Linked DNA regions of Homo sapiens: region 1 is linked to region 2. The links come from fine-mapping of genetic effects on gene expression. A gene starts in region 2. The other region holds a variant in brackets. All regions are shown on one strand. Distances are between the middles of the regions.

Region 1 (2,922 bases), 52 kb before region 2:
AGGCCATGTTTTAAACATAGGCTTTATACTTTTAGTTTTCATTTAAGTGATTGCTTTTTTCCTAAGTGCTTGTAACTTACAGTTGGAAAATCAGATTTCACAAAACCAAGCATTTTAGTATATTCAGCCTTTACAATAAAATATTTCTACTAATTATAAAAATGAAAAAAAAAGTGTCATTTAAATCCATTTGGACCTAGGAGGCAACCTTAGATTTATACATTAAATATTTTAATGATTTCCTTCTGTAGCAATTCAATAAATGTGAGATAAATAAGTTATCAGCTTGAGTACTGTCCCTTCTAATTGATACAAATTTGGTCATGAAGTATTGGGATGTTGCTACAAAGAGCAAAACTGTGTATTCATTGAATAGATACACACTGTTAAAATCCTTTCATTTGGAGGCTGGAAAGGATTATGAAATTAAGTGAATATTGACTAAGTATGACATTTCAAATATTGAGCATATTTTGAGTTTAGGTAAACTTTGAATAGATACCTCTTAAATGTAACTAAGAAAGTAAAAATATAGGCTGGGTGCGGTGGCTCATACCTGTAATCCCAGCATCTTGGGAGGCAGAGGCAGGCGGATCACAAGGTTAAGAGATTGAGACCATCCTGACCAATATGGTGAAACCCCATCTCTGCTAAAAATACAAAAATTAGCTGGGCGTGGTGGCACGTGCTTATAGTCCCAGCTACTCAGGAGGCTGAGGCAGGAGAATCACTTGAACCCGGGAGACAGAGGTTGCAGTGAGCCCAGATCACACCACTGCACTTCAACCTGATGACAGAGCAAGACTCTGTCTAAAAAAAAAAAAAAAAAAAAAAAAAGTAAAAATATAAAGACACTCTAATATAATGCAAGTTGCCATCTGTAAAATCAAGTTATTTAAAAGATTATGGTGCTTTCTGTTTTAGTATTGCATTGTGTGCTTTTATGTATTTCAATTTTTGAAACAGGGTCTTGCTCTGTCACCTAGGCTGGAGTGTAGTGGTGTGAACACAGCTCACTTCAGCCTTGACCTCGTGGGCTCAAGCCATCCTCCCACCTCAGCCTCTTGAGTAGCTGGGACTACAGGCATGTGCCACCACACCTGGCTAATTTTTAAATTTTTTGTAGAGACAGGGTCTTGCTGTGTTGCCCAGGCTGGTCTTGAACTCCTGGGCTCAAGCGATCCTTCTGCCTCGGCCTCCCAAAGTGCAAGGATTATAGGTGTGAGTCATTGTGCCCAGCTGGACATTGTGTGCTTTTATTGTTTGTTATTTTGTGTTAAATTTCTAGTTTTCCTCTCTTTCACTAAGAAAGATGGTTGCACTTAGCATATTAAAAGACTACTACATACTATGCCTTCTATGAAATTGCTTTAAGTTATGAAAATCTATGTGGATTGCCCAGTTAATTTGCTTACATACCTTTCTTATAAGCCCTGTAATTTTTTTTTTTTTTTTTTTTTTTTTTTTTTTTTTTTTTTTTTTGACGGAGTCTTGCTCTGTTGCCCAGGCTGGAATGTAGTGGCGCGATCTCCACTCATTGCAAGCTCCGCCTCCCGGGTTCA[T/C]GCCATTTTCCTGCTTCAGCCTCCTGAGTAGCTGGGACTACAGGCACCCACCACCACGCCCGGCTAATTTTTTGTATTTTTAGTAGAGACGGGGTTTCACCGTGTTAGCCAGGATGTTCTCAATCTCCTGACCTTGTGATCCGCCCGCCTCAGCCTCCCAAAGTGCTGGGATTACAGGCGTGAGCCACCGCGCCCAGCCTTAAGCCCTGTAATTTAACATAGCTATCAAGAGTGTGAAAGCATTCAAAGCTATATTCAACCATATATAAAACCAATTAACAGAATTCATTCATTGATGATTTATTTAGTATCTTCTATGTGCCAGGCATAAGCTTAAGGCCCAGGAGCCACAACGGTGAACAAGACAGAATAAAGTCCTTCTCTTCATGGAATGTATAATCACGGTGTAATAATATGGTAGATGTAAACAGTTAACTCATGTAATTATTATTTTTTTATTACAGTCTCTGCTTATCCAAACTCATGTAATTCTTAAGTGCAGGTATAATAAGCATATGAAGTTATGGTGTGCAATGAGATAATGATAGAGAGCCCACTAGTTTGAAGGCAGGGGTGGTATGGGAAGGCTTTGCAGAGAAAGCAACAAGAAAACTGAACTCCAGTGAAGATTATGAATTGGCTGGGGAAGTAGAAGGAGAGATATGGAGAGTATAGTGTTCCAGGGACATGGGGGAGGGGAGATTGATAGAAATGGTCCAGGTAATGAGCCAGGGCAAGAGTAGACCTGATGCAGGATAGGAGTCAAGTAGGACTGAGAGTGGTAGGGGAACAGGAGCAAAAAGGACAGGTGGTCAAGGTTTGAGCAGTTCCCTACCACTCTCAACCCTGCTTGTCCAGAGGTGTCTCAAGAGCCACTTTTCCATGAAGCTTTTGCTGACTTCTCACTACAACCAGAATAGTGCCCTCTTTTATGCTCTGATAGCTTTTCAGTCTGTATTATTTTACTTGACAATTTACCTGATGTTTACTTGTGCATGTGTGTTTCTATCCTACTAGATGATTGAGTTCTTAAAGCCAGACATTTGTTTGTTTGTTTTGTTTTTTAGTAGAGACAGGGTTTCACCACATTGGCCAGGCTGGTTTCAAACTCTTGACCTCAAGTGATCCACCCGCCTTGGCCACCCAAGTGCTGGGATTACAGGTGTGAGCCACGGCGCCTGGCCTAAAGCCAGACATTTAAAAGAGGTCTTTAGGGTTATTATTATTATTATTTTGAGACAGGGTCTTACGTTTGACTACTGTCACCCAGGCTTGAGTGCAGGGGTGCAATCATGGCTCATTGCAGCCTCTATTTCCCTGGCTCAGGTGATTCTCCCACCTCAGCCTTCCAAGTAGCTGG
Region 2 (2,922 bases):
CCACTGCACTCCAGCCTGTGCCACAGAGTGAGACTTTGTCTCAAAAAACAACACAAAACTCATTAGAGAAACTCAGCAAGTTACAAAAAAATAATAATTAAAAGGGTCTTTAACGCTGAGCCCTTAAAGTCTTTTTTTTTCTTTTTTTTTTAAGACAGTCTTGATCTGTCACTCAGGCTGGAGCACAATGGCGCGATCTCAGCTCACTGCAACCTCCACCTGCCGGGTTCAAGCAATTCTCTTGCCTCAGCCTCCTGAGTAGCTGGGACTACAGGCGCGCGCCACCATGCCCAGTTAATTTTTTGTATTTTCAGTAGAGGCGGGGTTTCACCTTGCTGGCCAGGCTGGTCTCGAACTCCTGATCTCGTGATCCGCCCGCCTTGGCCTCCCAAAGTGCTGGGATTACAGGCGTGAGCCACCGCGCTCAGACTTTAAAGTCCATTTTAAGTCTAGACTTCTATGAAGGTAGACTGCCGAGATGTAAAAGAAATAAAATTAGTTATTTAGCTTTTAGATCGGATTACATTTTCTGCTTTGATTATTCTAAAGCCTCCAGTAAGGCGTAAAGGGAAAGCTCTAAGTAGCGCATCCTGGGAAATGAGCAGATCAGGGAAGGGGTGTTAGACCTGGTATTATGTCTAAAGACGATTTTCATTTAAAGGAGGATCTTCCCCCGGGCAGCTCAAGGTCACATCGTAAATACCTTATAGTCTAATTCAGTGTCCCAAAACAGGACCCCGACTCCCCAGATCCGGGTTGGGGGTGGCTCAGGGCCTAAAGTTCCTACCCTCGCCCAGGTGACACCATCTCCAGGAAGGTCTGCACCCGACCCGGCGAAGCGCTGTCCCGCTTCGCACCCCCCACTGCTCCAGGTACGTGCGGCGGCCTCCTCGGGAGACCCCGCCACTTTCCTGGAGCGTAGCCTGCCACCCCCCGTCCGGGAACCCCGGATTCTCACGGCAGAGAACAGACACCATACTTAAGCACAGGCTCTCGCATCCGACATCAGTACAAGGCTGGGGGTTGTTGGGGGACGGTTGAGCCTTGGGAGGGAGGGTCAGGGTCTGGACAGGAGCCGCGGCCGCCAGATGGGAAAGAACACGTGGGAGCAGTAATGTCAAGTGACACTTAAACCCTTAGACGCCGATTCGTTATAACGCGAGGAAATCTAGAAGAAAAAGCAGGTACCATCAGCGAATTCTAAAATCTCCTAAGGATTAACTTCGGTTATTTTCTGCTTAGACAACGCTTTCTATTCCCGACTTCCTCTCCAATAATGACCCGAATCTGTCGAAACTTCTTGGAAGCCTAATTTACCTAATCCCACGTCCCTAACGGTCTTCGGAAGCGAAGCAGTGTCAACAGTCCCTGGTAAACACAAGTAGTATTACAAGTCGGGAGCTCTTCAAGTCTTGGATGAGACTGTAGAGCGGTCTTGTGCGGCAATGTGCTACCTTAAAATAAATAAATAAATAAACCCCTGTTATGTCCGGAGTTTGTTTCCACCCGGAGAGGAATGGAAGAGCACCAGAGAGCGCTTAGCTTTCTGGTTGGATGTTTTGGGTGAGTTTCTTGGCGCGCATGCGTGTTGTGTCTCAAGGGCGGGTTTGAAGGGAAGTGGGTGTTGACCTGCGGGCAACTGACGCTGTTGTCAGATTACACCCACGACGGTGCGGGTCTCGGGCGTTCTGGAGATACGTAGGGGTGAATTTATGTTTCCGACGATTGCATCTGGAGGGGTGTGTAAGACTCTGTGGCTGAAGAAAGCTATTACGCTTCTTATGTGGGTCATTATTTTAAAAATAGCATTTCGCTTTTATTTGCTTGACTGCCTCTTCTCAACAAATTTTAAGCCCGCCACTACATGTGTTTGGTTTTGCCCTACCAGCTCTGGGGTTGGGGAGTGCACTGTTATGGTTATTGTTGCTCCTGTGGCCATTCTCTTGTCATCCCCACTTTCACATTTTGGCGTGGTGTATTAATAGACTGAGTGGGATTAATGGGTAAATATGACTTTATAGTCAGCTCTAATCCTGGATTCAATATCAGAATTTAGATTTTCAGCTTTGTGGATGTTCGACATTTTAAAAACAGTTATTGCAAAGAGGTGAAAATTTTGTTCTGAAGTCTTAAGGAAACAGAGAAAGTTTTTCCGTCCTTAAGTGTGGGACTTGTTTTGTGACCAACAATATGAAAGGCTCTGAGGTCAGCTTGGAGAAGAAAAAAAAGATTAAGATGCCAGTGAAGAGACTTCGTGAGGTAGTTTCTCAAAATCATGGAGATCATTTGGTTTTGCTGAAAGATGAGTTGCCCTGTGTTCCTCCGGCATTGTCTGCAAATAAACGTCTTCCTGTTGGAACGGGGACTAGTTTGAATGGAACATCACGTGGTATGTGATTCCATGTAGTTTTTCAACCAGTTTTAGTTTAGTAAATCTTTAGTCCTTATTTGTTTAAATTCCCAAACGTAAGATATAAGTCTAGTTTGTACAGATGTTTGAAAACTGACCCTGTTTCCCGGGAAAATGGCCAGGAAGCCTATAAAATGTTTGAATAGATGGAATGAATGAAACTTTAACGTCCCCTGTTGTGCTTTTTTTTTTTTTTTTTGCATTGACTTTTGCATATTTTTTTTTTTATATTTATGGTGGATACACTTAACTTGTATAATGTGCTTTATTTTCCCCCACGTAGTGTTTTTTATAGTTTTCCCCCAAAGTAGTGCTTTTTACCTAATTCACTACTTTCTTTTCATAGTGGGAAAAGCAGGACTTCTGCCAATTGATGGCTTCTATATTCCAATTCACTTAATCTGTCTAGAGCTCAGTGAAAATAAGGATAACATATGCTTTACCCACTTCGCTGCTAATTGTGAGGATTAAATTAATGAATATGTGAGCAAAAACAGCAAAACGCTTTTGTA

Alleles and levels. Alleles are on the strand shown, and positions count from the first base shown. SD is a standard deviation of normalised expression in the study named.
For the expression in tibial nerve of the gene that starts at base 1,645 in region 2, C is the high allele of the variant in region 1 and T is the other (large effect, 0.78 SD a copy in GTEx).

Evidence for each region. PIP is the estimated chance that this variant, and not a neighbour inherited with it, causes the effect. A credible set is the group of variants that fine-mapping cannot tell apart.
Region 1: its variant is the best candidate, but not a certain one, in a credible set for the expression of KIAA0586 in tibial nerve (GTEx, PIP 0.69).

The regions. Positions count from the first base shown.
Region 1 is chr14:58,373,715-58,376,636 of GRCh38, forward strand. ARID4A (AT-rich interaction domain 4A) reads left to right here. Exons shown (of 24, transcript NM_002892.4): 24 at 1-162. All of the region lies in intron 1 of TOMM20L-DT (TOMM20L divergent transcript), which reads right to left. Among named protein-coding and RNA genes, the nearest start is that of TOMM20L-DT, 21 kb to the right of the region's middle. The variant T/C (reference allele first, on the strand shown) is at 1,563.
Region 2 is chr14:58,426,075-58,428,996 of GRCh38, forward strand. KIAA0586 reads left to right here and starts at 1,645. Exons shown (of 31, transcript NM_001329943.3): 1 at 1,645-2,389. The coding sequence starts at 2,191. TIMM9 (translocase of inner mitochondrial membrane 9) reads right to left here and starts at 1,457. Exons shown (of 6, transcript NM_012460.4): 1 at 1,318-1,457; 2 at 980-1,168. RefSeq lists enhancers at 1-592, 1,607-1,656, 1,727-1,916.